Linked DNA regions of Homo sapiens: regions 1, 3 and 4 are each linked to region 2. Evidence: fine-mapped expression QTL. A gene starts in region 2. Each other region holds a variant in brackets. All regions are shown on one strand. Distances are from middle to middle.

The links.
Region 1: its variant is fine-mapped to the expression of DRC1 in testis (GTEx, PIP above 0.99).
Region 3: its variant is fine-mapped to the expression of DRC1 in nasal epithelium (TOPMed, PIP 0.98).
Region 4: its variant is fine-mapped to the expression of DRC1 in whole blood (TOPMed, PIP above 0.99).

The regions. Positions count from the first base shown.
Region 1 is chr2:26,421,326-26,429,531 of GRCh38, forward strand. It overlaps DRC1 (dynein regulatory complex subunit 1), which reads left to right. Exons shown (of 17, transcript NM_145038.5): 3 at 1-75; 4 at 2,946-3,129. Among named protein-coding and RNA genes, the nearest start is that of DRC1, 24 kb to the left of the region's middle. The variant G/A (reference allele first, on the strand shown) is at 3,141.
Region 2 is chr2:26,398,005-26,406,210 of GRCh38, forward strand. It overlaps DRC1 (dynein regulatory complex subunit 1), which reads left to right and starts at 3,916. Exons shown (of 17, transcript NM_145038.5): 1 at 3,916-4,140. The coding sequence starts at 3,986.
Region 3 is chr2:26,441,918-26,450,089 of GRCh38, forward strand. DRC1 (dynein regulatory complex subunit 1) reads left to right here. Exons shown (of 17, transcript NM_145038.5): 9 at 2,305-2,439; 10 at 2,799-3,031; 11 at 6,774-6,886; 12 at 8,079-8,168. Among named protein-coding and RNA genes, the nearest start is that of DRC1, 44 kb to the left of the region's middle. The variant G/T (reference allele first, on the strand shown) is at 4,005.
Region 4 is chr2:26,452,141-26,460,346 of GRCh38, forward strand. It overlaps DRC1 (dynein regulatory complex subunit 1), which reads left to right. Exons shown (of 17, transcript NM_145038.5): 14 at 1,180-1,409; 15 at 2,507-2,650; 16 at 2,991-3,093; 17 at 4,321-4,571. The coding sequence ends at 4,377. It overlaps OTOF (otoferlin), which reads right to left. Exons shown (of 47, transcript NM_194248.3): 46 at 7,868-8,065; 47 at 5,063-6,080. The coding sequence ends at 7,885. Among named protein-coding and RNA genes, the nearest start is that of DRC1, 54 kb to the left of the region's middle. RefSeq lists enhancers at 5,492-6,062, 6,063-6,632. The variant G/A (reference allele first, on the strand shown) is at 4,354.

The sequences.
Region 1 (8,206 bases), 23 kb after region 2:
GACAAATATCCAGGTGGCTATAGATATCAGAGAGATTCACAGGAGAGTCGAAGAAGAGGAGATAAAGCGTCAAAGGTAAGGACTGTGCTACTCTGCAGCTGGTGGACATGAAGGTAATCTCCATGGGTCCGGCAGTTCTCCCGAATTGTTGGAGGGTGACTTTGTCCACCTTAGACAATTCCCTTCCTGCCCTTATAACTTCTCCCTCCCTCCCTCCTCTTCTTTCTCTCTCTTTTTTTTTTTTTTTTTTTTGAGACAGAGTTTCGCTCTTGTTGCCCAGGCTGGAGTGCAATGACGTGATCTCGGCTCACCGCAACCTCCACCTCCCAGGTTCAAGTGATTCTCCTGCCTCAGCCTCCTGAGTAGCTGGGATTACAGGCATGCGCCACCAAGCCAGGCTAATTTTGTATTTTTAGTAGAGACGGGGTTTCACCATGTTGGCCAGGCTGGTCTCGAACTACTGACCTCACGTGATCCACCCGCCTTGGCCTCCCAAAGTGTTGGAATTACAGGCGTGAGCCACCGCGCCCGGCTATCTCATCTCTTTTCTTTCCTCCCCTCCTCAAGCACTACATTGCTGATACGTGCCAAGCTGTGTGTATACAAAAGGAGTGAAACACGGCCTCTGTTTGTGGTATTCACAGTCTAGTCAAGAGACACATGGAAACACCCATAATTCGTGGTAAAATAGATAATGTGTAAAGGGTTGTAGTAACACACACAAGGAGGCCTTTAATTCTATCTGCAGAGATTACAGAAAACTTCCCAGGCAAGGTGACGTTGAGCTGGGCTGTGAGGGATGAATAGGAATTTGAGGAATTGAAGAGTAGGCATTTTAGGCAGAGGGAACACTTGAGCAGAGGTGTGAGATCACATGATGTGCTTGGGAATGGCATGATAGCGAAGGATGTATGCGGGTAATGGAAGAAAAGAGAAGAGGCTAAGAAGGTCAACTGGGCAGTCCTGGGTTTCAATTGGTGAGAATGACCAGACCCACGAATACCTCAGTGTTATGTGTAAAGGTGGCAGCATTATTAAAGAATATTGAGGGCTCCATGCATAGAAGGATGGAGGTTCACAGGGATCACAAGAACCTGCGTCAAGTCCTCAGCTCCAGTCCTCAGGAGGCAGGCTGCCCTGCACGCCCATGTCCCAGGTCTCAGGCTGTCCAGCAGGGAGGCATAAGCGGCTTAGAAGAATTAAACTTCTTTGGTTTGCACACAGAAGTAGACTGATAGCAGGTCCTCATTTAAGCTTTGGATTGTTCTTCAATTAATTTCTTAAACAATTAGAAGAACAACCACTTGGCCAGGCACGGGGTGGCCCACGCATGTAATCCCAGCACTTTGGGAGGCCGAGGAAGGCGGATTGCTTGAGGTCAGGAGTTCAAGACCAGCTTGGCCAACATGGTGAAACTCCGTCTCTACTAAGAACACAAAAAATTAGCTGGGTGTGGTGGCGCGTGCACACCTGTAGTCCCAGTACTCAGGAGGCCGAGGCAGGAGGATCACTTGAGCCCAGGAGGTGGACGTTGTAGTGAGCCAAGAGTGTGCCACTGGACTCCAGCCTAGGCAATGGGAGTGAAACCTAGTCTTTAAAAAAAAAAAAAAAAAAGGCAACCACTTGACCATTTTGTCTCATCATATACACACAGGGGTCGATTTTAACAATATTTTTAGTTGTTCAGCATAAGCAGTTCCCTCTTTAGCAACTTTAGCAGCCCTACCAGTAAACGTGGGTGACTTTTATTCTCGAAACTTCCCACTGCCTGTATGGGCTGTGCCAGGAATGGAGTCGGCAGATTCCCAGCAGGGTCAGCTTGTGAAAGGCAGGGAAGGTCATGCAAGGAGTTAGGCCTTGTCCTCTAGCCACAGAGGAATGCTGAAGGTCCCAGGTGGCAGGTTACAAGGTCAGTGTGCTGCGGAAAGATGACCTGACAGCTCTTTCTCATTTCTTGAAATAAAAAAGTCAATTAAATTAAAAAAGTGTCCTAGCTTGGAAGGTGGGGTGGGTGGGGGATGGGACAGGAAGAGGGGATTGCAGGATGTTTAAGCTGTGACTTCGGTTCCTCAGGGGGTTTGTTTGGAGGTGCTCTCATAGGATTAGTCTGTTACAAGGAGCAGAGAGTCTCTGGCAGATATCTTAGCCACTGTTCCCAGAGGGGCCCCAGCTCAGCTCTCCTGCCTTCCTGCCACCTCGCCCCAGCCTCGGTGTGCTCTATCACGGAGGTTCTTTGGAATTTATGGAAAGGCTGTCCCTATTTTCCATCACTCATTGGTGGAGTTTCCATATTTGTACATTCCACTAGTCATTTATTGGTAACTTGGGAGAGGAGTAGCCAGACACTTGAGGTCATGTTGCTAATATAAAATTGATAATTTAAGCACCATGTGTTAAGTGACTCCCATGCTGAGCACCTGTGCTGTGTGCAGCATCTTATTTCATCCTGACAACAGCCAGCCACTTGAAGGTAGATACTTTTCATCCACGCCATTTTACAGAAGAGAAAAGTGAGGCTTGAGGGAGTTATGCAACTTGTCCGAAAGGTTGACAGTCAGTTAGGAGCCAAGTCAGGACTTGAACATAAGCTCTGTGACTCCAGAGACCCAGTGTTTAACTGTTGTGTGTTATCATCTTACTCAGAAGCAGGTGACCAATCGATCTTGGTGTGTGTGCGTGTGCACGCGTGTGTATGTGTGTGTGTGTGTAGCCTTAATGTTGATCTGTTTTTGCTATGTGTCATTTTCTTTACTTGGCCTAAGTTATTTACAGTCAAGCGTTAAACGAAAAGATTTCTCAGCATTGAGTTTGATTTTGGGCGGGTGTGTTTGGGCAGTGCCTAGTACCTGGGTCTTATATTCTAGAGATTCTAGAGAACGTACCTGCTCTACTGGAAGGCAGCATCTGGAGCTGGGTTGGCATGGCTGGCATGTATGTATTTGCAGGATTGAGAAGCTGGAGAATGAAGTTAAGACCAGCCAGGACAAATTCGATGAAATCACCTCAAAGTGGGAAGAGGGCAAGCAGAAGAGAATTCCCCAAGAGCTGTGGGAAATGCTCAATACCCAACAGCTGCACTGTGCTGGACTCTTAGAAGATAAGAATAAACTCATCAGCGAGTTACAGCAGGCAAGAGGCCC[G/A]GGCCCTCCAGCCCAGCCACAGGGGATCTGCCTGGGATTTAGCTGGGTTACTGGTTTGCTTTTCCTGAATGGAAAAATGTAGAAACCTTTTACTTCATTATTTAGAATGCTGTACAAGTCATGTTATAAACTTTTTTCCATGATGGTAAGAAACACATAGCATTAAATTTGCCATCATAACCATTTTAAAGTGTATAGTTCATGGGCTGGATGAGGTGGTTCACTCCCATAATCCCAGCATTCTGGGAGGCCGAGGCAGGCGGATAACTTGAGGTCAGGAGTTTGAGACCAGCCTGGCCAACATGGTGAAACCCCATCTCTACTAAAAATATAAAAATTAGCCGGGCATGGTGGCACATACCTGTAATCTCAGCTACTCAGGAGGCTGAGGCAGGAGGGTCGCCTTAACATGGGAGACAAAGGTTGCAGTGAGCCGAGATCGCACCACTGCACTCCAGCCTGGGTGACAGAGGGAGTGAGACTCTGTCTCAAAACAAAAACCAAAAAACTGTATAGTTCAGTCATGTTAAGTATACAGCATTCAGATGCAATAGATCTCTAAGAACTTTTTCATCTTGCAGCATGGAAATTCTATGCCCCTTAGACACCAATTCCCTCTTCCACTTCCCCCTAGACCTTGGTAATCACCTTTCTACTTTCTGTTTCTGTGATTTTGACTACTCTATTAGATACTTCCTGTGAGTGAAATCATACAGCATTTGTCCTTTTGTGACTAGCATATTTGGCTTAGTATAGATGGACTTCGTTGTAGCACGTGACAGGACTGCCTTCCTTTTTAAGGCTGCGTAGTATTTCATTGCATATATATACCACATCTTGTTTTATACATTCTCCTGTGAATGGACATTTGGGTTGGATTTCACGTTTTGGCTTTTGTGAGTAATGCTGCTATGAACATGGGTATACACGTATCTCTTTGAGATACTTCTTTGAATTATTTGGATGTATACTTAAAAGCAGGATGGCTGGGTCATATGGTAATTCTATTTTTAATTTTCTTAGGAACCTCCATACTGTTTTTTATAATGATTGCACCATTTTACATTCCCACCAACAGTACACAAGGGTTCTAACTTCTCTGTATTCTCACTAACACTTACATCCTGTTTTTTTGATAGCTTCCGTGTTGATGGTGTGAGGCGATATCTCATTATGGTTTGGATTTGCATTTCCGTAACGATTAGAGATGTTGTGCATGTTTTTCATGTGTTTATTGGTCACTTGTATATCATCTTTGGAGAAATGTCTATTTAAATCCTTTGCTTATTTTTAAATTGGGTTGTTTTTGAGTTATAGAAGTTCTTTATGTATTTTGGACATTAACCCCTTATCAGATATATGATTTTCAATTATGATTTCCTATTCCGTATATTGCCTTCTTAGTCTTGATTTTTTTTTTGATGTGCAAACATTTTTGAGTTTGGTGCAGCCCCGTTTGTCTATTTTTGATTTTGCTGCCTGGGATTTTGGTGTGATATCCAAGAAATTATGGCCAAATCCAATGTGCAGAAAGCTTGTCCTCTATATTTTCTTCTAGGAGTTTAATAGTTTTAGGTCTTTAATCGATTTTGAGTTATTTTTGTATATGGTATAAGGTAAGGACCCAACTTCATTCTTTTGCCTGTGAATATCCAGTTTTCTCAACATCATTTGTTGAAGAGACTATCCTTTCTCCACTGTATAGTCTTGTCAAAAGTCATTTGACCATAGATGCAGGGGTTTATGTATCATTCATTTATCATTTTGACCCTTGTCAAAGCCATTTGGTCATATATGTAGGGGTTTATTTCTGGGCTCTCTAGTTCCCTTGGTCTATATATCTATTTTTATGTCAGTACAACATTCTTTAATTCCTGTTGCTCTTTGCAGTTTTGTTTTTGTTTATTTTTTTTTTTTTTGAGACTGAGTCTTGCTCTGTCGCCCAGGCTGGAGTGCAGTGGTTTGATCTCGGCTCACTGCAACCTCCGTCTCTAGGGTTAGAGCAATTCTTCTGCCTCAGCCTCCCGAGAAGCTGAGACTACAGGCATGCACCACCATGCCTGGCTAATTTTTGCATTTTTAGTAGAGATGGAGTTTCACAATTTTGGCCAGGCTAGTCTCGAACTCCTGACCTCAGGTGACCCACCTACCTCAGCCTCCCAAAATGCTGGGATTACAGATAGGAGCCACTGCGCCCAGCCTGTAGTATGTTTTGAAACCAGGAAATGTGGGGCCTCCAACTTTGTTCTTTTCTCAAGACTATTTTGGCAATTTGGAGTCTCTTGAGATTCTGAATTTTACAAATTTTAGGATGGTTTTCCTATTTCCACAAAAAATGATGTTGGGATTTTGTTAAGGACTGCACTGAATCTATAGATCACTTTGTATAGTATGGACATTTTTAACAATATTGAGTCATCCAGTTCATAAGCACAGGATATCTTCCATTTGTTTATATCTTCTCTGATTTCTTTTAGTAATGTTTTACAGTTTTCAGTGTACAAGGCTTTTGCCTACTTTGTTAAGTTTATTCCTAAGTATTTCATTCTTTTTGGTGCTATAGTAAATGGATTATTTTCTTAATTTCTATTTTGGATTGGTCATTATTTGCATATAAGAATGCAACTGATTTAAAATTTTTTAAACATTTAATTTAATTTAATTTTTTTGAGACAGAGTCTCGCTCTGTCACCCAGGCTGGAGTGCAGTAGACTGATCTTGGCTCACTGCAACCTCCACCTCCTGGGCTCAAGTGATCCTCCTGCCTCAGCCTCCCAAGTAGCTGGGATTAAAGCGCACATCACCATGCCCAGCTAATTTTTGTGTTTTTAGTAGAGATGGGATTTCACCACGTTGCCAAGTCTGGTCTCAAACTCCTGACCTCAAATTACCCACCCACCTCCACCTTCCAAAGTGTTGGGATTACAGTTGTGAGCCACCGCACCTGAGCTTTTTTTTTAAATTTAAAATTAAAAAATTTTATGGGTAGGTGTATATATTTATGGGGTATATAAGATATTTTGATACAGCCATACAATGTGTGATAATCACATTGGGGTAAATGGGGTATCCATCACTTCAAGCATGTATCATTTCTTTGTGTTGCAAACATTCCAGTTATACTCTTTTAGTTATTTTAAAATGTACAATAAATCTAGCTGACCTTAGTCACGCTGTTATGCTGTCAAATACTAGATCTTATTCATTCTAACTATATTTTTGTGCCTATTAACCATCCCCATTCCTCCCTGACCCTCCACACTACCCTTCTCAGTCTCTGCTAACTATCATTCTACTTTCTATCTCCACGAGTTCAATTGTTTTAATTTTTAGCTCCCACAAATGAGTGAGAACATGCAAAGTTTGAATTTTTGTGCCTGGCTTATTTCATTTAACGTAATGCCTTTCAATTCCATCCACGTCGTTGCAAATGACAGGATCTCATTCTCTTTTATGGCTGAATAGTACTCCCTTGTGTATAGGTACCACATTTGCTTTATCCATTCATCTGCTGATGGACACTTAGGTTGATTCCAATTCTTGGCTATTGTGAATAGTGTGATTTTTGAATTTTGATTTTGTGTCCTGCAACTTTGCTGAATTTAAGTTCTAACAGGTTTTCCTGTGTGTGAAATCTTTAGTTTTTCTGCATATAAGATCATGTCATCTGTGAACAAAGATAATTTTAACTCTTCCAATTTTGATGTCTTTTCAAGGGATAAACTTTTAACTAGAAGTAAAAGCTTTGTCATAATTGTAGAATTATTAGCTATCTAATAGAAATACAGTCATGCATCACTTAATGATGGGGATATATTCTGAGAAATGCATTGTTAGGTGATTTCATTGTTGTGAGAACATCATAACATGTGCTTACACAAACCTAGATGGTATAACCTACTACACACCTAGGGTATATGATATAACTAATTGCTCCTAGGCTACAAACCTGTCCGGAATGCTACTGTACTGAATACTGTAAGCAGTTGTAACGCAGTGCTAAGTATTTGTGTATCTAAACAGAAAAGGCACAGTAAAAATACCATATTATGGCCGGGCACGGTGGCTCACGCCTGTAATCCCAGCACTTTGGGAGGCCGAGGCAGGTGGATCACGAGGTCAGGATATCGAGACCATCCTGGCTAACACGGTGAAACCCTGTCTCTACTAAAAATACAAAAAATTAGCCAGGCATAGTGATGGGCGCCTGTAGTCCCAGCTACCCGGGAGGCTGGGGCAGGAAAATGGCGTGAACCCGGGAGGTGGAGCTTGCAGTGGGCCGAGATCGAGCCACTACACTCCAGCCTGGGCAACAGAGCAAGACTCTGTCTCAAAAAAAAAAAATACCGTATTATAATCCTATGGGACCACTGTCGTATATGTGGTCCATCATGGACTGAAATGTTGCTATGCAGCACATGACCGTAGTATTTTTACAGCAAATGCTGTTCCAGAGTTTAGTCCTTAGTTAAGGAATGCAACTTAGTCTGCAGTAGATATGTTCTCGTGTTGGAACCTGGACATTAATTGCTCAGCTAGGACACTCTAGGCTTTCTGGGAGCTTGCAGGGAGATTTGCAGCAGGTGATAACATTGAGGGGTTTGGTCCTGGGTGCTTGTTAAGAGCTTTGCCCTGAGCAGAGTCCATTCCACTCCATCTACTATGCTTTATCTCAGGCCTTCTAAGACTCTTCTGAAACCACTTTCTCTTTGTACAGATGATTATTATTATTATTATTATTATTATTATTATTATTATTATTATTATTGAGACAGGATCTTGCTCCATCTCCCAGGCTGGTGTGCAGTGGTGCAATCATGGCTCACTGTAGCCTTGACCTTCTGGGCTCAAGCGATCCTCCCACCTCAGCCTCCCAAGTAGCTGGGACCACAGGCGTGCACCACCACATCTGGCTAATTTTTATATTTTTTTGTAGAGACAGAGTTTTGCCATACTACCCGGGCTGGTCTCCTGAGCTGAAGCACCTGCCTCAGCCTCCCAAAGTGCTGAGATTATAGGTGTGAGCCACTGTGCGCAGCCCTCTTTGTACAGTTTCATGTCCTAAC
Region 2 (8,206 bases):
GTTAGTATGAGCCAGCCAGGCTTTTGTATGAGCTTTTTTTTTTTTTTTTTTTTTTTTTTTTTTTTTTTGTGAGATGGAGTCTTGCTGTGTCACCCAGGCTAGAGCGCAATCTCTGCTCACTGCAACCTCTGCCTCCCGGGTTCAAGCGATTCTCCTGCCTCAGCCTCCTGAGTAGCTGGAGTTACAGGCATGCACCACCACACCCAGCTAATTTTTGTGTTTTTAGTAGAGATGGGGTTTCACCATGTTGGTCAGGCTGGTCTCGAACTTGACCTCGTGATCCACCCACCTTGGCCTCCCAAAGTGCTGGGATTATAGACATGAGCCACCGTGCCCGGCCTGTATGAGCTTATTAGTATGAACCAGCATTGCCTACCAGTTGAGGACCACACTCTAGATGCTGGTCAGTCATCAAGGTGAATGGACATCACCTGCCTCCCTTCCCCAAGTCCCTCTCATCTATAACAGCCCTACTTGCCTGCCTCACTCTCTTGGGGGTCTCCTGTTATTTCTCTTACAAAAACATGAATAAATAAGCTTTATGTTTTATTGAGTCAAAAGGGATTTATCCTCATTGTAAACATTTTTTTTTAATCTTCAGGGAATCTGAAAATCACCCATAAGCCCACCCCTGAGGGATATTGACTACTTTGTGGTATTCCCCCTGTTTTTCTTGTGTACTACTGTCTACATTTCAAATCAAACTCGGCTTAGGCTCTATATTGTGCTGCCTGCCTCTTCCCTTTCTCATGTAATGTATCTTGGATGTCTTTCTAGGTCACCTTTATTCTTGTGTTAGAGAATCCCATGATTCTTTTATCGGTTCCCCTATTGATGGATTTTGTCATATCTAGTTTTTTAATATTACAAGTAACTGGAATGGACATACAGATACATCTATATACGTTTCTTTCAAAAAAAGTTTGTTGAGCACTTACTACATATCAAATATTGTGCTAGGTGCTATGTATAAAATACCGAATAAAACTGATATAGTTGTGACCCCAATGAGCTATAGCTAGATCCATGATCTCCTTGTGATGATCTTTAAACTAGAATTGCCTAGTGAATGGATATGCTAATTTATTTTTGTGTGTATACAAATAAATATGTTTTTATCTAGTTTTTTCAGTTTTTAACAATTTTCTAAATTTAACTCACTTATGAACTATTTACAAAGGCATGGAAAATTAAGCATGCATTTTCCCATTTATATTTAATCATAATTCATTACATGTCTTCTGACTTTCTTGTTTAGTGGTTTTTCTTTGTCTCTTTGTTTCATTCCTTTGACCTCTACAACCACAGTTGTCTGCCCCATGAAAATATTTCTTCCTCTCTCTGTCCTTTGTTCAGTTTAAAAAATTTTTAGTATTTAAAAAAATTCGGCAGGCCGGGCGGAGTGGCTCATGCCTGTAATCCTGGCACTTTGGGAGGCCGAGGCGGGTGGATCGCCTGAGGTCAGGAGTCTGAGATCACCCTGGCCAACATGGTAAAACCCTGTCTCTACTAAAAATACAATAAACATTAGCTGGGCATGGTGGCACACGCCTGTAGTCCCAGCTACTTGGGAAGTTGAGGAAGGAGGATCGCTCGAACCCAGGAGGTAGAGGTTGCAGTGAGCCAAGACTATGCCACTGCACTCCAGCCTGGGCAATTGAGCAAGACGCTGTCTCAAAAAAAAAAAAAAAAAAAAAAAGGAAATAATAGTTATATATGTTTATGGGGTACATAGTAATATTTCAATCCATATAATGTATAGTGATCAGGTCTGGTAATTAGCATGCCTATCAGCTCAAACATTTGTCATTTCTTTGTGTTGGGAATGCTCAATATCCTCGTTGCTATTTGAAACTATGTTATTGACTATAGTCACCCTCCAGTGGTGCAGAACACTAGAACCTGTCATTTTGTATCCTTTAACAAATCTCTCCCTATTCCACCCTTTACCCTAGTATGCCAATTTAAACAGTTAATAGATTTTGGCAAACTGTCCTCCTAGGAGGTCCCTTTCCAGCGGTGAGTGAAAGTGTTTCCCACACCAGTGAAAAAGGTTTATTACATAATTGAGGCTGCCTGTGGGAGCAAAGAGGGCCTCCCAGCTGGTCAGAAAATGGCTAGAGAGAGCCAGGAAAGGAGACAAGCTTGGGGCTTTTATTGTGGTTAAGGGGTGAGGCTGGGAGGAGGGTATCCTGTGCACGCAGATGAAATCTGCCAGCACCAAAAAGAGCACCTAGGCTTTTTTTAACAGCTTGCCCAGATGTGGAGAAGAAAGAGGGAGTGCTGCGTAAAAGCTGCCAGCAGCCAAATGTCAGCAGCAAAAAATGGAGTCAGATTTCTTATATAAAAAGATGTTGGAAGTGGTATCAGAACAGTGCAGGGCCAAGTATCTCACTGGTCACTCTTCATGGGTTTGTATGGTACCTTTGCTCTCACTTACCTCTTGTGCAACAGCTGATTCCCCCTGACTTTCTCATGGTATCCCACTCCCAGGCATAGACATGCGCATGCACACATGCTTGTTTCTGTCCTTACGGATAGTGGAAACATGAACCAGGACCTGGACGAGTTTTTGGTCAGAGCTGTATCATGGCTCCTAGGAGAGTTTAATACTTTAGGTTTCAACCAAAGGAGACAGAGATCTGGCAGAAGGCCCTGAAGCCTAGAAGCAAGTACCCCCGCTCCTACCACCACCACCTAGGCAGGTGTGAGACAAGGATCCAGGCAGCTGCTGTTAGACTCTATAGCTGTTGGATGGTTTTGGCATTCCTAAACCTCTCTACTGCTTGCAAACGTGGAAGAACTGATTTTAAAAACCCACTCCATTTGCCTCTGGGCAGTTCTTACTCACAAAGGACGGGTCGTCTTGGCCGCACAGTTGTCTGTGGGTTGCATCATTTAACAGCTGAGAAAATGCTCCTCAAGAAGTTGTGACTTGCCCAAGGTGGCAGGGCAGGGCTAGGACTAGTACTCACCCTTTCTCACTGCTCATCCAGTGCCCTTAATTCCCCACGGGCTAATGGGACAGAACCCTGTTAAATGGTATCCAGTTTTTGTTTGGTTGGTTGGTTGGGTTTTTTTGAGACAGAGTCTTGCTCTATTGCTCAGGATGGAGTGCAGTGGCTCGATCTCGGCTCACTGCAACATCCACCTCCCAGATTCAAGCGATTCTCCTGCCTCAGCTTCCCGAGTAGCTGGGATTATGGGTGCCCACCACCATACCCAGCTAATTTTTGTATTTTTAGTAGAGACGGGGTTTCATCATGTTCACCAGGCTGGTCTCAAACTCCTGACCTCAAGTGATCTGTCCACCTCGGCCTCCCAAAGTGTTGGGAGGCTGAGGCATGAGCCAGCGCGCCAGGTTTTAATTCTCAATGAGAACACTATTTTTGTTGACAATGAGACGCCCAGAAGATAGCGCCTTTCTGGGGACAGTTGAGAATTTAATAGTGCTTCCGCATTTCTAACTTTTATCCCTCCCCCCTCCCACGGACTGTTTTCCTCTATTCCACTTTTCCTCTTTCATAAGTATTTGATTGCAGGTTGGTATCCTGTATCCAAGCACAGCGCTTGGCATCGAGTAGGCGCTCAATTTTATTTGGTGAATATGAGTTGGAGGAATATTTGATGAATGAATGGAAGATGAATTAATCATCAGGGTCAGCAAGTGATGAACCACAACTTGGTCCAGTTCTTTAGTCCTCTAGTCTCCTGGTGAGACTCCACAGCTCCGCTAACACGACCGGGCCTTCGTGGGCCTGACAACAGACCTGACATCCCACGGGCGGGAGAGGCGTCAGCCCGAGGCTGGGATGCTCGGCCGGAACGGCGGCTGGCGGCAGGCTGGGCCCAGGGAGCTGCGCGCGCAACCACTCGGGCTGTGGCTCCGGTGACCGCTCTCCCTGGCAACGGTTTGTTCCTAGCAACCAGCCTGAGGTCTGGAGGTGGTGCGGAGGGAGCCGCCTAGGGACCAGGGACTCCTGCCATGAATCCGCCGGGGTCCCTAGAGGCCCTGGACCCGAACGTGGACGAGCACTTGTCCACCCAGATTCTCGCGCCCTCGGTCCACTCCGACAACTCTCAGGAGCGCATCCAGGCCCGGCGCCTCCGCATCGCTGCGCGCTTAGAAGCCCGGAGGCGGTGAGCGCGGGGGCGGGCGGGGCGGGATCCGCGCCGCAGGAGCCGGAGAAGGGCTGGTTTCCTGATGAAATAGAAACATTTCTTCGGGAAGGTTCAGGCAGAGTATGGGAAAGTAAAACGCTGGGCCGGTGCCGTGGCGCGCGCCTGTCATCCCAGCACTTAGGGAGGCCGAGGCGGGCCGATCACTGGAGCCCAGGAGTTGGAGATGGTCAACCTGGGCAGCATAGAGAGACCCCATCTCTATAAAACATCAAACAATTAATCGGGCGTGGTGGCGTTCGACTGTGGTCTGCACATGGCATCTTTTCCACTACGGACACCTCCAAACCACAGGGTCTGCTGGATCATGTGGCCCAAGTAGCCTGGCTGCTTACACTGTGGCCTGGGTCCTTTCTTGTTCCAGGCACCACTCAAAGCTGGCAGCTTTTTGTGTCAGCCTGAATAATATTCCTAAGTGCGGGATGTATTGTCTCTAGGACCCAAAGTGGCCTAAGAGGCATTGAGTTTCCTTCTCTGTAGAGGATGCAAAATGCAGTAGATTTGTTTTTTACTTGATAGGCTATCCCAGCATCCCACTGACCACTGGACCCCTACAAACTTGAATGACATGGCAGTCCCTGGGCCTTCATAGGGTTGATTGCCCACCGTCTGGAGCACACATGTCTTACCAAGCCCTGCAGTGTGTTTCCATCACTCGCTCACCCTGGCTGATTGCTGCGGGGCCATCAGTGGAATGCAGGGGCCGGCAAACCCTTTCAGTAAAGGGCCAAATAGTAAATATTTTAGGCTTTTCGGATCATATGGCCTCTTTCCTAGCTGCTCAATTGCCATTGTATTGCAAAAGCAGCCACAGGCAAGACATAAACAAATGGGCATGACTGTGTTCCAATAAAGCTTTATTTATGGACACTGAAATTTGAATTTCATATACTGTTCATGTATCACAAAATAGCCTTCTTTTGATAAAAAATAATAATAAACTTTATTTTTTAGAGCAGTTTTTAGGACCACAGCAAAACTGATCAAAAAGTATAGCATTCGCATATACTCCCTGCCCCCACACATGCACAGCTACTGTCAACATCCTGCACTGGAGGGCACATTTGTAACAATATATGAACCTTGGCGCATCGTTATCACTTGAACTCCATTGTTTACCTTAGGGTTTCTTTTTGGTGTTGTACATCCTATGGGTTTGGATAAATTTATGGTGACACGAGCCCACCAGTATAGTATTATACCAAATATTTTTACTGCCCTAAAAATCCCCTGTGCTCTGCTTATTCATCCTAGTCTTTTTTTAACCATTTATTTATTAACCATTTAGAATTGTAAAAATCATTTAAAATTGTAAAAACCATTTAAAATTGTAAAAAATCGTAGCTCATGCCTGTAATCCCAGCACTTTGGGAGGCCAAGGCAGGAGGATCACCTGAGGTCAGGAGTTCAAGACCAGCCTGGCCAACATGGCGAAACCCTGTCTGTACTAAAAATACAAAAATTAGCCAGGTGTGGTGGCAGGCACCTGTAATCTCAGCTACTTGGGAGGCTGAGGCAGGAGAATTGCTCGAACCTGGGAGGCAGAGGTTGCAGTGAGCTGAGATAGCGCCACTGCACTCCAGCCTGGGTGACAAGCACAAAACTCCATCTCAAAAAAAAAAAAAAAAAAAATTGGGCCGGGCGCAGTGGCTCATGCCTGTAATCCCAAAACTTTGGGAGGCTGAGGCGGGCGGGATCACGAGGTCAGGAGTTTGAGACCAGCCTGACCGACATGGTGAAACCCTGTCTCTATTAAAAATACAAAAATTAGCCAGGCATGGTGGCGCGCGCCTGTAATCCCAGCTACTCAGGAGACTGAGGCAGGAGAATCGCTTGAACCCAGGAGGCGGAGGTTGCAGTGAGCTGAGATCGTGCCATTGCACTCCAGCCTGGGCGACAGAGCGAGACTCTGTCTCAAAAAAAAAAAATTGTAAAAATCATTATTTGCCTGGAAGCCATACAAAAACAGGTGGTGGACTGGATCTGTCCCACAGGCCATAGTTTGCCAGTGCTGAAGTAATGGATCATTGTGATGTTCTCTGGGATATCCAGATGTCCCTGATATATTCAGAATATATTATGACAGAGATCAGGAGAACTACCATGGTCCTGTGAGTGTGACCGACTTGTGAGTGTATATCATTGTCTGTTCCATGTAAATGTGAACTTCCTGATTATTTTTCCTGATTGAGGTAGAAAAGCATGCATTTGGCCCAATCAGTAGCCACACATACTGTGCCTGAGGCTGTACAAATTTGCTCTAGTGAAGCTTACCACACTTGCATAGATGCTGTGTTCAGGAGTGCTACCTGTGGAGCTTCTGGTAGTTGACAGTCACTTTCTAGGATCCAGTTTCTGCAGGTGCCAGACCCATGAATTAAAAGGAGATTCAATAGGGATCACCATTCCTGCATCGTTGAGATACTTCAGGGTGGCACTAATCCCCACCAACACCCCTGGGTGGCAATATTTTTTTTTGTGTACTGAGGTGCAGTTTCAGAGATGTCCTTTTGGCCTTCCCCACTATGGTAGCTCTATTTATAGGCCAAGGAGTGGAGTTTTTCAAACTTCTAAGTATGTAGGTCCCAATTATACTTTTGGCCATTAGAGACATGATTGCTGGCTGAGTCCACAGACTTGGCAGACCCTCTGTAAGTAGGACTTTGCCTCCCCTGTGTCCTCACTCTAAGTGGGTGGGAGCATGCTTTGGGTCTCTGGGTGTCAATGGTAACTCAGACCCTGTTCTAATCCTAAACATTTCTGGGTATCCTCTTTCCTTATTGTGCAGCCCTCCTGAGTAGATGACCCTAGGCCCCTTTGGGGAAGAACTGGGGGAATCATTACAATATATATTTGCCGTTGTGTTCCAGATCCTTCCTTGTGGGGACCCTGCTGCCTCTTCAGTCAATAGATTCTGGCTCTGAACACTGGCTTAGGTTCAGGAATTGGGCAAGGGAGCATGAATCTTTACCAGCGTGCACCCTTAGCCTATTTATCCTTTGCTGCTTTCTTTGGTGAGCACCTATGAGTTGTATTCTTGTTGGCTGCCCTTTCGTTTTGCACCAAATGATGCCATATTTTGTAAGCCATCTTTAAAACTCTCTGTGGATCAAGCCCTTGTCTGCTACTCTGACCTTGGCAGTTGTGCTGGGGATTCTATGATAAACAAGGCAAATATAATCTCTGTTCTCAGGAAGCTTATATTCTAATGAGGGAGATGGGAAAAAATAAAGTGCAACTAAACAAGTAAACAAATAACATAATTATACATTTTGAAAAGAATCCTAACGGAAACAAGCAATGAGCAAATATGAAGAATAATAGATGTGGCACCTGAAGGTAGGTGGTCAGTGAGGGTGAGAAAGAGCTGTCAATGTAAAGAGTTGTACTGGGCATTCAATTATATTAAGGAACTTTTTGGCTATGATAATGGTATGGTGGTCTTGTTTTTTTTTTTTAAAGGCTATATCTTTTTTTTTTTTTTTTTTTTTTTTGAGGCCGAGTCTCACTCTGTCTATGCAGGCAGGAATGCAGTGGCGCAGTCTTGGCTTACTGCAATCTCCACCTCCCAGGTTCAAGTGATTCTCCTGGCTCAGCCTCCCGAGTAACTGGGATTACAGGCAGCTGCCACCACACCCAGCTAATTTTTTATTTTTAGGAGAGACGGGGTTTCACCATGTTGGCCAGGCTAGTCTCGAACTCCTGGCCTCAGGCAATCCACCTGCCTCAGCCTCCCAAAGTGCTGGGATTACAGGCGTGAGCCACTGCGCCCTGCCTCTATTCTTTATTAGTGGTTGGGGCCGCGCATTGTGCGTAAGTGAGCTGGGACCATTCTGTACCATTTCAATGTGCTCTCAAAACAAATGCATGCAGCTGAGTCTGTGCGAGCCTGGAAGCTCCCTGAATTAACTTCTCTGTTAATTAAAGGAAAAGAGATTAAAATATGTTATATTGAAGCTTACATATATATTATTAATAGCCAACAGTAATTGCAGCAATGGATCAGAACTTAGATTGACAAGAGCTT
Region 3 (8,172 bases), 44 kb after region 2:
ACCACCCAGCATTTCACAATTTGACATATCTGTTTGTGCTGCTCTAACAGACTACCTGAGACTGGATAATTTACAAAGGCAAAAGTTTATTTCTCACAGTTCTGGAGTCTGGGAAGGCCAAGATCAAGGCTGGCAGGTTTAGTTTCTAGTGAGGGCTGCATCTTTCAGAGGGGAGGGATGCTGTGTCCTCACACAGTAGAAGAGCGGGAGAGCAAGCTGGCCTAAGGCTTTGGGAGGCCTCTTTTATAAAGGCCTTAATCCCATAATCCCATTCATGATGGAGGAGGCCTTATGGCCTCATTACCTCTTAAAGGTCCTGCCTCTTAATATTATCACATTGACAACACTGAATTTTGGAGGAGTTACATTCAAGCCGTAGCAACCTATGACCCCAGGATTGGACAAAAACTTCCCACAGTAGGATACTGATGATGCCCTTCTAGCCAAGCGCAGTGGCTTCTCCTCAGGCCTCATCTATTATGATTGGATACTGGATTTTCTTCTTTGGTTTAAATGACCCTAAAATATTTGCTCTTCTTTCTTAATGTATTTGTTTCCTTTGGTGGTTCTGCTTTTCCTTGCTTGATATGTCTTGAGTATCTAGATAAGACAATCTAGAAAATCCAGGCCTTACCATTGCTTTTAATTTTTATTTCATCTGCCACATACCTCAGTCTCATGGTTTTGAATATCCCCTTTTTGTTGATGACTGCCAACCTCATATCCCCAATCCTGAGCTCACCTTTCATTTACCTGGAACTGCCAACGTAACAGTTCAGCTTGGAGAGGCCCTGTCATTTCCAGGGCACAGTTTCTGAAACCAGACTTGCCTCTGCTCCCTGTTTCCAGTTCTCCAGCCTCACTCCCCTGCATCTCTAGCTTCCAGGCACTAAGAACTCTGGACTTTTTTTGTTGAGCTTCCTCTTGCAGCCATTCTTCCCTGTTCACTTCCTCGCCTGCTATCTTGCCCAGACCTTCAGTATGCACCTGGAGTTTGTTTTGTTAGCTTCGGTAATTAGATGACACATAGGAACTCCTTTACTGCATGACATTGGGAAAAAACACTTTGGAATGACTACTTATTTTTACATCTGTGCTTGGAAAGCCTCCTTGAAGGCTGTAGTTAAGGAAATGGGTTAGCTGTTTCTTTCTATCAGAGACTAAGGTAACGACTTTTTTTGCATTTTCTTGATGATGAAAATATGAATGATGAATGTTTGCATTTGAGAGACATTTTGATCATTTCAGAATAATGCTTAGGAGAGGGAAAATCTTATTTTTAGAATTTCTAAACTTAAAATATGTTGGCCTTCAGCTTCTCTGTTACTGTGTGAATGGGGCACTGATAAGAGCCACCTCTGTAGTAGTTTGAAGTCTGAAGTATGGGCCTGGGTCTAAACATTGCGCCTGCCATGCATATTTTATGGGCCGAGTTTCCATGCACAGAGCTCCTGTTAGCAGTGAGATGGTGAGCTGTGCCGTGCCTGGATTCACAGTGCTATTGGACAGGTTTTAACTGCCTCTTGCTATTCTGGAAATTTTGGACCACCCCCTCCCCTGCAAGCCTGGGTAAGTTAGATGCCTCACCTCTGGGCTCCCCTGGCACCCTGCATAAAACTCTCCTATAGCACTTTCCACGCTGTACTGTAATTAACGTTTGTCTTTGTTTTTGACTAGACTGATAGTACCTTGTATTGAAACGTATCTTTGTATTCATCTTTGTCTTTCAACATATCCTTGCGCAAAAGTGGCATTTCATGTTTGTTTAATGAATACGTGGATGAGTGAATAAATGAATGAATGAATGAGTTACTGGACCTGTTAACGGTATCAGCTCTTTGAGGCTGGAAGATTTATGTATCATAGGCTTTTGTGATATGCATTTTTTTTCTTTAAAATTTTCTTGCTTCATGATTGAATTAAACATCCAAGTCATGACAATGAAATCGTTGAGATAGATTATTTAAATATGTGAGGCTGGCCCTAGGTATGGGTATGGGCATTCTGACAAATGATGTATTGTGAAGTAGGTTCTGTCCACAGTCTTGAGTAGGAGGCTGCCTCTTGGTGGGAATGGGCTCTGGATTGTTTTCAATGCGTTTCGTTTTGGACTGTCCCAAGATCTCCTGTTGCCTTCCTTTTGTTGATCAAAATGGGATCTGTGTTTTGGAATATATGGGAGGGTTTTCTGCTCTTCCACAGATCTGCTCCTGGGTTTGTGGTAGAGCTGAATCAGGTGGATGAGAGGAACATACATAATACCTTCTATTCAGCTGCAGACTAACCTTTTTCTCCTTCAACCAGCCTGCATGATATACTTAACAATCTGAGATCAAAATATGCCAAGCAAATAAAGCAGTTTCAGGAGGAGAACCAGTCTCTAACCTCGGACTACAAACGTCTTGTGATGCAATTCAAGGAGCTACAGAAAGCCATGAGGTATCTTAAGGACTTGGTCCTAAGGCACTTGTCCTAGCATAGAGGTGACGGGGATGGAGTTTGTACAAGCTGTGATTTCGTTGGACTTGATGTCACCAGCTATTCTGGGGCTGGACCAGGCACTAGTTAACCTTTTGTGGTGTGTTCCCCTGGCCCTTCACTTGCGTGTCACCTGCCTTTTCTTGAGATGTGTTGGGATGGCTTCCAGTTTATCGTAAGTGGGAATCAGCCGCCCAGGGATGGGGCCAGGCCCAGGAATTAGCACAGCTCCTTTTCATATTCCTGCCCTGCTGCTATTTGAGGGGACCCTGGCCAGGTCCTGGGGCCAGCTGGCCATGCTCTGTGACTCTCCTTCACAGGCATTTTGCTCTTATTGATGATGAGAAGTTTTGGGAGATTTGGCTGATGAATGAAGAGGAGGCGAAGGACCTAATAGCCAGAGCCTTTGATGTGGACAGGATCATCCACACCCATCATCTGGGGCTTCCCTGGGCAGCACCTGATTTCTGGTTCCTGAACAATGTTGGGCCTATTTCTCAGCAGCCCCAGAAGTCCGCCACACAGATAGTAGAAGAAATGCTTATGCGCTCAGGTGACTAGAACACTGTCATAGAGCCTTAGAGCTGGAGGAGCCCCCTGAGAACATCGGGTCAAGCCAGTCACGTTAGAGATAGTCTAGGGAGGAGGGGGAAGAGTATGATTATTGGTATCGCTTTTAAGTCTCCTCTAATTTATAGCTTTGCTCTCTCTCCTGTATTATAAACTGGCAGTTAGGTCTAGAAGCTTGATCAGATGCAGGTCCAATTTATTTTTGCTAAGTACACTATTGTGTAGTACCTCCATCGGGATAAACTAATGTTAAATTGTCTCCCTTTTTGTGATGTTAGCAACCATTGCTAATCATTGTCTAAGATCCATTAACTGTATTAGGGATTGCAAAATGGTGATATGTTAGATTCTGTTCTTGTGTCTTTATTTAACAGAATACTTCTTAAAAGAAAATCTTCCCTTCCTCAGCAATTTGCTACCCTGAGATAGTCTGTATATGAAAAGCAGGATAGATGCTTATTTTTTCTCTGTTTACCAGTTTTCAAAATAATGGGTTGGGCCTCTAGCATCTTCCAAAGGTACCAATGAGTTTTTAAAAAATATTATGAATGCATGAGTTTAAACAAATTTGATGTATTTTAGTTTACTAAAGTAATTATCCTTATTGAGGCTCAAATTGTTCCATCTTTGGCTAGTGGAAATCTTCATATTGGCTTCTGGGTCCTTTTGATTCAGCCCTAGTAGTTATTTATTTATTTATTTATTTATTTTTGAGACAGAGTCTCGCTCTGTTGCCAGGCTGGATTGCAGTGGCGCGATCTGGGCTCACTGCAACCTCCGCCTCCCGGGTTCAAGCAATTCCCCTGCCTCAGCCTCCCGAGGAGCTGGGACTACAGGTGCGCACTGCCACACCTGGCTAATTTTGTTTATTTTTAGTAGAGACAGGGTTTCACCATATTGGCCAGGATGGTCTCCATCTCCTGAGCCCGTGATCCCCCCAACTCAGCCTCCCAAAA[G/T]GCTGGAATTACAAGTGTGAGCCACCACGCTTGGCTAGCCCTAGTAGTTTTTTTTAACAGCGTCCTGGCTCTCCAGGATGACCAGGTGTTCAAGGCACACATTATACTTTTCCTGCCTCTTGTCTGGAATCAGCCATTTCTCCAAGGATCCCCTGGTCCTTTCAAATAGGGAATTTTTTTTTTTTTTTTTTTTTTGAGATGGTCTCACTCTGTCGCCCAGGCTGGAGGGCAGTGGTGGGATCTCGGCTCACTGCAACCTCTGCCGCCAAGGCTTCAGCAATCCTCCCACCTCTGCCTCCCGAGTAGCTGGGACCAAAGACTCATGCCACAATGCCCAGCTAATTTTTGTATTTTTTTGTAGAGACATGGATTTGCCATGTTGCCCAGGCTGGTCTCAAATCCTGGGCTCAAGCGATTCCTTCCCAGAGTGCTGGGATTACAGGCTTGTGTCACCATGCATGCCCAGGGAATGGTATTTAGAAACCACGCTGTGGGCGCTGGGTGCTTATTGTTTTGGATTGGCCATTGTTTCTAGGCCTTTTCAGTGGACAGAGCTGAGAGTATAGGATTTCTTTTTTTTGGTAATAAAATAAATCATGAGTTCATTCTAATACCTCCTCATCAACAGGATGCCAGGATTTTTATTTAACAGTATCAAAGTGTATCCCCTTTCTTCCAACTTTAAAATCTTAGTGCTCAGTGACTTCAAAATAATGAATCACATGCCTTCCCCACAGCACCACAGAACTGCCTCAGAGGAAAATATCAGCCCTGCCACCAACAAATGATTACTAAAGACAGTTTACACTGTTTTATGGTTCCTTTTATTCTTAAAATGTGTCCCTCCAGGGATGTACAGACAGATTGCTATATTTTAAAGTCACCTGGAGCCAGGTGCGATGGCTCACCCCTGTAATCCCAGCACTTTGGGAGGCCAAGGCGCGCAGATCACCTGAGGTCAGGAATTCGAGACCAGCCTGGCCAACATGGCGAAAACCTGTCTCTACTAAAAATACAAAAAATTAGCCGGTCATGGCGTGCGCCTGTAATCCCAGCTACTCAGGAGGCTGAGGCAGGAGAATCGCTTGAACCCGGGAGGTGGAGGTTGTAGTGAGCCAAGATTGCACCACTGCACTCCAGGATGAGCAACAGAGTGAGCCTCTTTCTCAAAAAAATAAAAAATAATAAAAATTAAAAAAAAAATAAAAATAGGCCGGGTGCGGTGGCTCATGCCTGTCATCCCAGCACTTTGGGAGGCCAAGATGGGCGGATCATGAGGTCAGGAGTTTGAGACCAGCCTGACCAACATGGTGAAACCCTGTCTCTACTAAAAATACAAAAATTAGCCGGGCATGGTGGCGCGCGGCTGTAATTCCAGCTACTCAGGAGGCTGAGGCAGGAGAATCACTTGAACCCGGGAGGTGGAGGTTGCAGTCAGCCGAGATTATGCCACTGCACTGCAGCCTGGGTGACAGAGCGAGACTCTGTCTCAATAAATAAACAAATAAATAAAAATAAATGCACTTGGAATAGTTTCTGTGTGGTTATATCACCAGCTTGATACACATATAGGTATTTTTGTTTCGTTTTGCTTTTGATTATTAGGGAATGGTTTTTTACAATTTAATTATGTTTTTTGTTCGTTTGTTTTATTTTTGTCTTTTTGAGACAGTCTCACTCTGTTGCCCAGGCTGGAGTGCAGTGGTGCAGTCTTGGCTCACTGCAACCTCCACCTCCTGGGTTCAAGCGATTCTCCTGCCTCAGCCTCCTGAGTAGCTGGGATTACAGGTGCGTGCCACCATGCCCAGCTAATTTTTGTATTTTTAGTAGAGACGGGGTTTTGCCATGTTGGCCAGGCTGGTCTCAAACTCCTGACCTCAAGTGATCCACCTGCCTCAGCCTCCCAAAGTGCTGGGATTACAGGCATGAGCCACCACGCCTGGCCTAAGAAGTTAATTTTAATTAAGAAAATTTTTGGCTCTTGCTGTCAGCTGTCAGTTCTTGCTGTTAATATTTCTCTGGACCAGGCGCCGTGGCTCATGCCTGTAATCTCAGCACTTTGGGAGGCCGAGGCAGGCAGATCACTTGAGTTCAGGAGTTCGAGACCAGCCTGGCCAATGTGGCAAAACCCCATCTCTACGAAAAACACAGAAATTAGCCAGGTGTCGCGGTGGGTGTCTGTAATCCCAGCTACTTGGGAGGCTGAGGGAGGAGAATCACTTGAACCCAGGAGGCGGAGGTTGCAGTGAGCTGAGATCACACCACTGCACTCCAGCCTGGGTGACAGAGCAAGACTCCATCTCAAAAAAAAAAAAAAAAAATTATCTGTGAATGTGCAAAGCCACCTGCCCCTGCTTTGAGTTGGCTGCTTCTGTCTAATCTGTTGCAGGTTTAGAGACTATATAGCCACTTGCTAGATCATCTCTGAAATAAGAATAAATGGGCTCACACTCTCCCTCCCACTTCCTGGTTCATGGCTGGATTTTGAGTATGATGTTTCCAGGTAGACGCAATTTGGAAAAGTAGGGCATTACAGGCTGGCTGGGAATGGCCGAGTTCTCCAGGTAGTCTCTGATTCCGACCCCCTAGCCCGCCTTCCCGCCACGTAATAGGCTTTTTTCATCATAAAGAGACTGAGAGAATGCCTCACAGAGGCTTTTTAAGAGGTACATTTTCTCAAGGAAAGCCATCTGACTGTTTCTCAGAGTCAACTAGCTCCAGAAATTATCTTCTTTTTCTTTCTCTCTCCTCCCCATGACCCAACTGCAGAAGAGGAGGAGGCAGAAGAGGCCGCCGCGGAACCAGAGTCCTACCTGGATTTGCCGAAGCAAATTTCTGAAAAAACTACCAAGAGGATCCTGATGCTCCTGTGTGACGAGTCGGTGAGGCCAGGCGGGGGCTGCAGCAGAGGGACTCACGGGGGTGTGCAGGTTCTGAGGCCTCTGCTGGGCCAGTGCTAGCCTGGAGTCAGGAGTGGGCCAGTCCTCCCCTGGCCAAGCCCAGGGTTGGGCCCTGAGGAGCAGAGTCAGGATGGCCCCTGGACTTCAGGGCCGGTTCATAGAGGCCTTGCCTCTGAGCTGGCCCAGCTGGAAAATGGGTCTAACCTTGGTTGGCCAGCATGGCATAGTTTAGGCCAGCTGGAGGGCTCCTGCCAGCTTAAAATGATGCTGCTTCTGAGACAGAAGTTGCACCAGCTCACCTCCATGAACCAACTTGCTAAGTGATGTGGCCACACTGACATGGCCCTTCTCAGGGGCTTGTTTTGGGGGTGACTCTGGCTATGTTGGGATTTGGATGTCTGCATTGTATGTTAGCAAACATGATTAGCCTTAGAATAAAAGCTGCATTGAGCTGGTTCAGCTGGAGGTTGGGTTGTGGTCAAACATGGGCAGTGTTTGTTTGGATCTTACGGTTCTGAAGTGGGTATTCTTTTAGGATAGTGAGGGCAGTTGCCTTTGGCTGGCTCTTGCCACTGAGGGCAGCTGCTGCTGAAGGGGTCAGGTGGCAGGTTCTGCCCTCTGAACCTGCAGCTGGATGCAGAGGCCACCTCCCCATGGAGCTCTCCCCCAGGCATCCCAGCTCAGAGCGGGCACCGCATCTGCTCAGCCGCCCTCTCCCTTCCACCGCATGTGTGCTGTGTTTTGGTTTGGGGTGCCCACTGCTTTCCATGCCTCCCTGTCCTGCTGCTGTGTTCTGTAGATATTTGGGGACAAGACTATGGGTGAAGCAGGAGCCTGTGACTGGGTCAGCTTTGGACTGTGGTGGGGGCCTCAGGAGTTTGCCTAGTGGCTTGTGGGTGAGGTGGGTTGGTGCCCTTCTGGGTGGGAAAAGCTAAGTCTGTGGTGAGGATGGGCTTTGTCCCTGGCCTTGCTTGTCTCTGGCCTTGCTCCCTGGGGAGGGGGGCGTTCATGGGCACCCCAAGAAGGCTTTGCTGGGGCCCACTGCTGGCTCCCATCCCTGGGCGTCTGCTCCGTGGCATGGTCCCTGGAGTGTTACACAGGGGGCAGCTGCAGACCCTGGGACTCGCTCCTGAAACCTGTCCCCGACAGGAGATGCCTTCTTCCTTCTCCCCAGGGGTTCCTCATAGAGAGCAAGCTGCTGAGCCTTCTCCTGCCCCTGGAGCAGAATGAATGCTATCTGCTGAGGCTGGATGCCATCTTCTCCGTGA
Region 4 (8,206 bases), 54 kb after region 2:
CTGAGGTGTAGAAAACAGGCACACTCATAAGTTACTGGTAGGAGTATAAATTGTAACCTCCATTGAGGACAGTTTGGCAGTATCAATTACAAAACTATATACATTTTACTCTGAAATTCTTCTTCTTTTTTTTGAGACAGAGTCTCACTCTGTTGCCCAGGCTGGAGTGCAGTGGCACGATCTCGGCTCACTACAACCTCCATCTCCCAGGTTCAAGCCATTCTCCTGCCTCAGCCTCCTGAGTAGCTGGGATTGATTACAGGCACCTGCCACCACGCCCGGCTAATTTTTGTATTTTTAGTAGAGATGTGGTTTCACCATGTTGGCCAGGCTGCTCTCGAACTCCTGACCTCAAATGATCTGCCCACCTTGGCCTCTGAAATTCTTCTTCTAGGATTTTATTCTCTAAATATATCTCATTACAGTTGAAATGGTGTATTTATTGTAGCTGATTCACTGTACATTGTTTGAAATGGCAGAAGATTCGAAACAACCTATATGTCCATTGTTGAGGAATCTATTTAATAATATATGGTATGTCTACACGATGGGGTACTATAAAACTGTGGGAAAAAACCAAAGTTCTTTATGTATTCACATGAAAAGGTACCTAAGGTTTATTGGTAAGTGTAAAAGCAAACTACAGAACTCTATTTGTAGTATAGTATCATTGATGTCAAAACGAGAAGGAGGAGTATATATGGAAAGGTATGCGCATGTATTTATATATAAACATTATATAGACATACTATTTCCTTGGAAGGAACCATAGGAAACTTGATAGCATTCGTTTGCCTGTGGGAGGTCAATTGCATGAACTGCAAAATAGGAGTAGGAGGAAGACCTTTTAAATTTAACAATTAAAGCAAAAATTTAATCTGTATTATGATTCAAAAGAAGATTTCTAACATGTAAGCTTTATGAATGTCAGTAAGGTGAGCACCTAGGAGCCCGGATTTAGAAACAGAACCTTTCCATTTTCTCGTAGCCTCCTAGTGCCTCTCCCCATCCCATCCCCCTTCTTCCCACTCTTTCTCCTGTTTCTGTCCCTGTGTAAATGTCTCCCTGGGCAAGCTGTCACTTTCTGTAAACTTTTCTGGTTTTTCTTCTTCCTGCCTCTCTCTCCATGCTCATGCTCGTGTGTCCCCAGCCCACAGTTGTCCGTGCATCTTTCTCCAGATCAAGCCCTGCAGTCAGGCGAGCATGGAGAAGGCGAGCATGGAGGAGACAAGCACGAGGTCAGAATTGGAGCTGGCAGAGCAGACGGAGATGGAGGGAGAAAAGGAAGAAAGCCTGGTGGAAGGGGAGAAGGAGGAAGAGGAGGAGACCCCACCCTCCCCCTGGGTCATCCACCCCAATGATGTCCTCAAGATTCTGGAGGCCTTCGTCATGGGTCTGAAGAAGCCTAGGTGGGCTGCGGGGCTGGAAGGCTTGCCTGAGACCAGAACCAGGGGAGCTGGATGGGCTGGGGAGCCAGGCAGAGCCAGTGAGTGGAGAAGAGTCTGCTGGGCAAGATGCGGGGACTAAGGACAGGGCTATCTGAAGGCGGGCTGGGGCAACCAATCGCTGGACAGTCAGGAAAGCAATAGGGCATAGTGGTGATCTGTGCTTTTTTCACTCATCATTCATTCAGCAGACATGCACTGAAGGCTGCCATGTGTAAGCACTGTGGGGGCACTGCCTTGTGATCAGAGTAATGGTCAAAGCACATTCAAGGTGCACCATTGTTCAGAGGAGGAAGTGGCCGTTTCCATTTGGCATGTCAGAGGGTTTTGGGAGGAAATGGCACTGGAACTAGGTGTTCCCAGGCAGATAAAATGGAGGTAAGGGCATTTCAGGAAATGACAGCATGGGGAAGGTCTGGTCTGTTCAAGAATCATCACAGGAGGTCTGGCTGGAGTGTCAAGGGCCTGGGAGGTGGCACTGGTGGGTGGGGAGCTAGCCAGGTCTTGGAGAGCCTTGCCCAATGTGCCCAAGATCTTTGTCTTTACCCGTTGGTGGGTGGGAGCCAGAAAAGGATTTGAAGCAGCCGAAGAGCCATGATTAGCCTTGCGTTTTAGAGAGATCATTGTGGCGTCAGGGAAGGGGCGAAGCTGGATACAGGGAAAGCATCAGGAGGCTTGTCCAGGTGGGAGGTGAGGATCCCCCAGATTAAGGCTGTCATGAGGGGATGGAGAGGACATGACTGAATTCAAGTGCTGTTTTGGATGTGTTGGTGCAAGAGATGGGCACAGTGATGAGCTGTAAAGCCAGTGAGGTAAACTGATTGGGAGAGAGAGGGGTGGATGAAGCACGGATTATGCCCTCACGAAGGTACCGGTGGTACCGAGGCAGGAACGTTGACAATAAGCATGCGTCCTTTCTGAGAACCTGCCACCGTCTAATAAACTTGGACTGCTGAGTGGGAAGGTGACAGGTGGGAAAGCAGTAGGCCTGTGACTGGCACTGCCTGGGGGCCTGGGTAGTACCCAATGGACATGACAATCACTGTGCTCTTGGCCTTCAGGGACTCGCGGGCCCCGCTGAGGGTACAGAAGAATGTGCGTGACAACTCCAAGGACTCGGAGTACTGGCAGGCCCTGACCACAGTGATCCCTTCCTCCAAGCAGAACCTCTGGGATGCCCTCTACACAGCCTTGGAGAAGTACCAGTAAGTGTGCATGTCATGGAGCAGGAGGGTGCTGGCGGGCAGGTGAGGAACGGTTGTTGGGAGCAGCCGCGTTTGCTGCCTCCCTGTCCCACTGAACCTGGGAGGGAAGAGCTGCCCTTGGCATCTCCTGTGTGGGTGGATCATGTGGGGCAGTTGGCTCTTGGGCCCTGGCCTGCCTGTTCTGTTCCTGCTAACCTGGCTCACCTGGCGGCTGGGTGAAGAGTGTAGCTTCTGGAGTCTCCCTCCACCTGTAGCCAAAGTACAACCACCAAGACCCTGGCCCCTACTTGGCAGAGGATGGAGGATTCAGTGAGCCTCTAACCGATTTTTCTGTCCAAAGCCTTGTCCTGACCCAGAGGGCCAAGCTGCTGCTGGAAAACAGTTCTCTGGAGCAGCAGAACACAGAGCTGCAGGCGCTACTGCAGCAGTATCTGAACTCCAAGGTGGGCGGCGGGGCCTTCCAAGGAGGGGCAGCGGGAGACACGGGTGGGGCAGGGGCACTGGAGCTGGGATTAGGGAACGAGGAGTCCCCTCCCCGTCAGAGGCAAGGGAGCTTTGTGATATGATGTAAAAAATCAAGAGTGGCACCTTGAGACAACTACTGGCCAAAGGAGTAGATCTTGCCTGAAGTCTCCTCCAGGACAGCTCAGGTGTGACAGTGTCTCTTTGATACTGTGGTTTCTGGTGCCAGTGGCCAGCTGGGACTGCTCTGTGTGAAGCAGTGCCACAGCCAGGAGCAGCTCCCCAGCTACAGAGCCTCCAGCTGTGCTCTCTTCTTCCATCCTCACACCCGCTGTGTGAGGTGGACAGGGCGGAAACAATGCTCCTCATTTCACACAAAGGACAATCACAACTTGCAGAGTTTGCAACTCGTCCAGAGCCTGGGCTCTTTCCACCCACCAGCCCCGGTTCCCTGCCTGGGATATGACTGGAGGGTCATCCTCGCATGGGGAAGGAGGCTCTGCTGGGGCAGATATTCCCTGGCCCCCATCTGTGCCCAACCCTGCAATAGTTGTGGACAACTTCCCCATGGCCTGGCAAGAGGAGGAAGGAAAAAGTCCATTGCTGACATTTCCTGCTCTGCGGGTGTGGGCACCTGCAGCTGGGGCTGTAGGCCAGGAAGGTCGTGACGCAGCTGTTAGTTGCACACGTGTGAGGTGACTGAGGCCAGCTCCAAGTCCAGCCACAGGGGCTGCGTGGCCCCAGCACAGTCCCAGGTCCCAGGCCACAGCTGAAAGTGGGATGTTGTAGTGAACCTTGGCCTCATAATGACCCTTGGCCTGTGACAGGACCCAGACATTCTGGACGGTATGGTTCCCGCTTCCACAGATGCTACTGTATACAAGAGGCTGGGGGAGGAAGAGGTGGGGCAGGCTAGATTGGGGATGGCATGGGTGCGTGGAGAGAGGAGAGGGGAAGACTGCAGAGAATGGACGGGCGGGAGATGAAGAACGCTACCAGAGGTCACAGCTGGAGCAGAAGCTGAGCAAGAAGGCTCAGGCGTGTCTCCTGCAGGGAGGCAGTCTGTGGGTGTTCAGCATCTCTCAGCTTTGGAGAGGAGATGCGTGCAGGGCTTTGGAGGCCCATGGGAGAGCCAGCGTGGCTCGCAAGGGTGGCAAAGAAGGAGGGCCCTGGGAAAAATGTAACGACTTTCACCCTTTCTTTTCCAGATCAACTCTGAACTGCAAGTTCCTCCCACTCAG[G/A]TGTTGCGGGTACCCACAAAATGAGCTGGACCGCCAAAGGCTGATGTGTTAGGGCTGGCCTGATGCTGGTGTCTGTGCCGGAGCCAGCTCATATCACCCACTGGGCCGCACCTGGGCCTGCTCTCTGGATTTTCCAGGGCTGTCTTTATAGCCTGTCGAAATAAGGAGCCAGAGGAGTTACCTGTGTCCTGCATTATGATTAAAGCCTTTTAAAGTTGTGGCTGAATCTCTTTAAAGAGGTCAGGTCTAGCAAGACCAGGCCCTTGCCCCTACCTCTGTGTCATGAGGGGACTTTGCCCCAGGCTCAGATAGTGGTGTGAGTCAGAGGCCGAGGCCAGTAGCGTGGGGCTCCTTTCTTGCTTTCAGGGGAACTGGTTTCTGTGGGTGGAGGCTAGAGCTTTTGGGCCCTTGTGGGGCCTTAAGCCTTCAGACTGGCCCCAGACCTGAAGGATTCTTTCGGTGCTTTGGGGGCCCCTGGGCCCAGGCTGGTGTGCCCTTTGGGCTATGGTGTAAGACTCCTCCTGTGGGCAGCCTGGGTGGGCAGCCCTGTGCCTGAGGCCTGCCTTGAACCCTGGGCCACCAGAGGCCACTTGAAGGGGAAAGGCCATGGGAGCCCTGCTGGTACTGAATCTGCCAGCCTAGAGAACTGCTGCCTCTGCCCCGCACCTGCGGCTGCTCCTCTCAGCTTGACCAGTGCAGACCTGTCAGCTCAGTGCTTGACTTCTTTTATTTAGAGAAAAATCACCACTCAAGAAAAGAAAAACAGCCAACAGAAACCCAGACACAGGCAGGGGCAGCACTTGACGGGCCAGCTCCCAGCTGCAGCTGAAAGGGCTGGAAGGGCAAGGGGGCAGGGGTGGGAGGACAGGGTGTGCCCGGGATGGGGAGTCCCCTCTGCTGCTTCTCACAGCTCCTCAGCTGGGCCTGGAGGCGCTGGCTGGGGCAGAGGGAGCTCTGGGAAGCCATGGAAACCCACAGGCAGGACAGGCGACCCCCTGGGAAGTGAGAGGAGCCAAGTGGAGCCCAGCAGTGGCAGAAGCAGCCGCGCTGGGACTTGTGGGCAGGGTCTGGCCCCTGCTGCGGATCAAAGACCGGTGCTATCTGCAGGGGTCACGGCGGGGATACCTTTTGCTCGTTCATTCTTTTTAAAGCCCTGGGCACTGACCCATGGTCCTTGGTTAATTTCACTAAAGCTTCAATCCTGTACTTGGAAGACCTGGGGAGGGTTTCAGGAGTCTTCCTCTGGAGCCTGGGCCTGAAGAAGGGTGGCGCCTCAGCCAGGTGGGGCAAGAGAGACCCATTCCAGGTCCCCACCCCATCCAAGGCTCCCCAGCCCACAGGCAGGGGTCAGAGGGGCGGGACTGGGCAAGCCGCAGCCTGGGGCAGTGAGGACAGGCGGCCCCCGCAAGCAGGAGGCAGGCTCGGCCCAAGGCATGAAGAGTGGACGCTGGGCTCCTCAGGCTCCCCAGGGGAGATGGGAAAGAGTCCAAGCCACTGAAAGGAAATGCGGCAGGGCTGGGGAGCGGCTGGCGGGAGCTGGCGGCCTTCATGCCCCAAGGAGCTTTTTGACCATGTAGCCAGGGAGGCTGTAGAGGAAGAGCCCCAACATGAGCAGCCCCAACAGCGCCAGCACGATCTTGATGATGAGCCACTTGTACCGGGTGCAGATGAGGTACTTGATGGACTTGAGAGGGTTGAGGAACCAGACGAAGGCCGTGTCGGGCCGGCTGGGAAGTGGAAGAGAGGAGCCGGTCAGCCAGTGGGCAGGAGCTGCCTCCCAGTGCACCCCATCCTCTGTCCTTCTGGACCCCCAAAAGCCCTGCCATGGCCCCAGCCCCAAAAGCAGTGAATGCTGGAGCCAGGGTTTAAACCCATTTCTAAGTACCCGACTTGCTGCTTACAAAACTCTATCCTCCCTGCAGCACCTTTGGGGCCCGAATCTCCTCCTAAGGCCTAGATGGGAGCTACTTGCAGCATGGGGCAGCCTTGGCCCTGCAGGCAGTTCTCATCGTTAGGAAGCTCCTGCGGTTAGCTCGTTCTATGTGCTGCCCCACGTCCTTGGTAAGACTGGTGCTTCACAACCTCTTCCTTTCTGATGGACATAAATGGCTGTTCCCACCGGGCCCTGCTGAGGGTCTGAGCAGCCCCTGTGGGGTGCAAGCTGCCCTCACCGACCTGCCCACTCTCAGGATGAAGACCCACTCCACCTTCTGTAGAGCCTCCCAGCCGAGAAGCACCTGGCCAGCCTCACTATCTGTCGTTTGTGTTATAAAAACAATAGGTTTTGTAAAATGTCAAGATACAAGTGAAAGTACTGCATATGCATTTTCAAACTACTGCCTCCCAGAGGACATGGCGTGCAGCCCCAGAGCTGAGCTCAGTATTGGTGGGGACACAGAGCCGGGGCTTGGGTGCAGGGCACCTGGTTTTGAATGGTTTTCACAGGCAAGTGAGGCACCTCTATCAACCTCGGTTTCTTCATGTATAAAATGGGGTTACAAGCAGTACCTACCTCCTGGGTTTGGCGCAATGGCACAGTGAGCCAGTGCCTGGGGAGCTCTGAGCACCTGCAGTTGGGTGTTCAGGCCATGGTGGCTATGAAATGTTTGAGTTGAATGGAATTATTATCCTGAAGGGCAGAAAACAACAGCCCTGGACTGGGAGGTCACACACGGGTGAGAGCCATTTCCAGACCTGTTGGCTAACCCTGGCCACACCCTTCCCTTTTCCCTGTCCATAGCTCAGCTTCTTTCTGCCAATGAAATTGGGTTAGAGTCGGCTGGGCGCGGTGGCTCACGCCTGTAATCCCAGCACTTTGGGAGGCCGAGATGGGCGGATCACGAGGTCAGGAGATCGAGACCATCCTGGCTAACACAGTGAAACCCCGTCTCTACTAAAAATACAAAAAATTATCCAGGCGTGGTGGCGGGTGCCTGTAGTCCCAGCTACTCAGGAGGCTGAGGCAGGAGAATGGCGTGAACCCGGGAGGCGGAGCTGGCAGTGAGCCAAGATTGTGCCACTGCACTCTAGCCTGGGCGACAGAGCGAGACTCTGTCTCCAAAAAAAAAAAAAAAAAAAAAAAATTGGGTTACAGTCTGGGAGAAACATGGCTGGGAGCAGAGGTGGTGTGCAAAGAACACAGGATTGGAAATTTGGAAACCTTGGCTTGAGTCCCGGCTCTACCCTAATTTGCTGGGTAACCTTGAGCAAGCTACTTCACCTCTTTGGCTTAATGTGGAAAAGTGTAAAATAGTCATTTCTAGTTCTGAGAGTCTATTCTGTCATGAAAGCTTGAAAGTTGCTGTGCATGTTTGTGTGGGCTTAAGTGTGTGCCTGTGTGTGCTTGAGTGCATGTGTATGCACTTGTGCGTGGCACATGTGTGCATACATGCTTGTGTGTGTTTGTGTGCACATGTATGCATATTTGTGTTTGTGGATGTGTGCGTGTATATGTGTGTGTGTGCACGCGCCTGCCTAGCCCTTGGTCCAGAGGAAGAAGTAAGAAATATCAGACCCAGGAGGCCACTGGGCTCAGGCCCCGAGGATTTTCTTGACCAGGTAGCCAGGCACAGAGTAGAGGAACAGGGCGAGGAGGAGGAGCAGCAGCAGGAGCAGCAACAGTTTGAGGAGCAGCCAGCGATACGTGTGCCACAAGAAGTAGCGAGCCGACTTGAGAGGGTTCAGGAACCAGATGAAGCTCGTGTCGGGCCGGCTGGAGTATGAAGGGTAGAGAGCGCAGAGGAGGGACAGGGAGGAGAAGGGATTGGGTGTGGCGAGGGGCCAAGACCAAGAGGGAAGCTGTCCTGGGCTGTGTGTGCAGTTCTAGGCACCCCTCTGGCCATCAAGGCTGGCC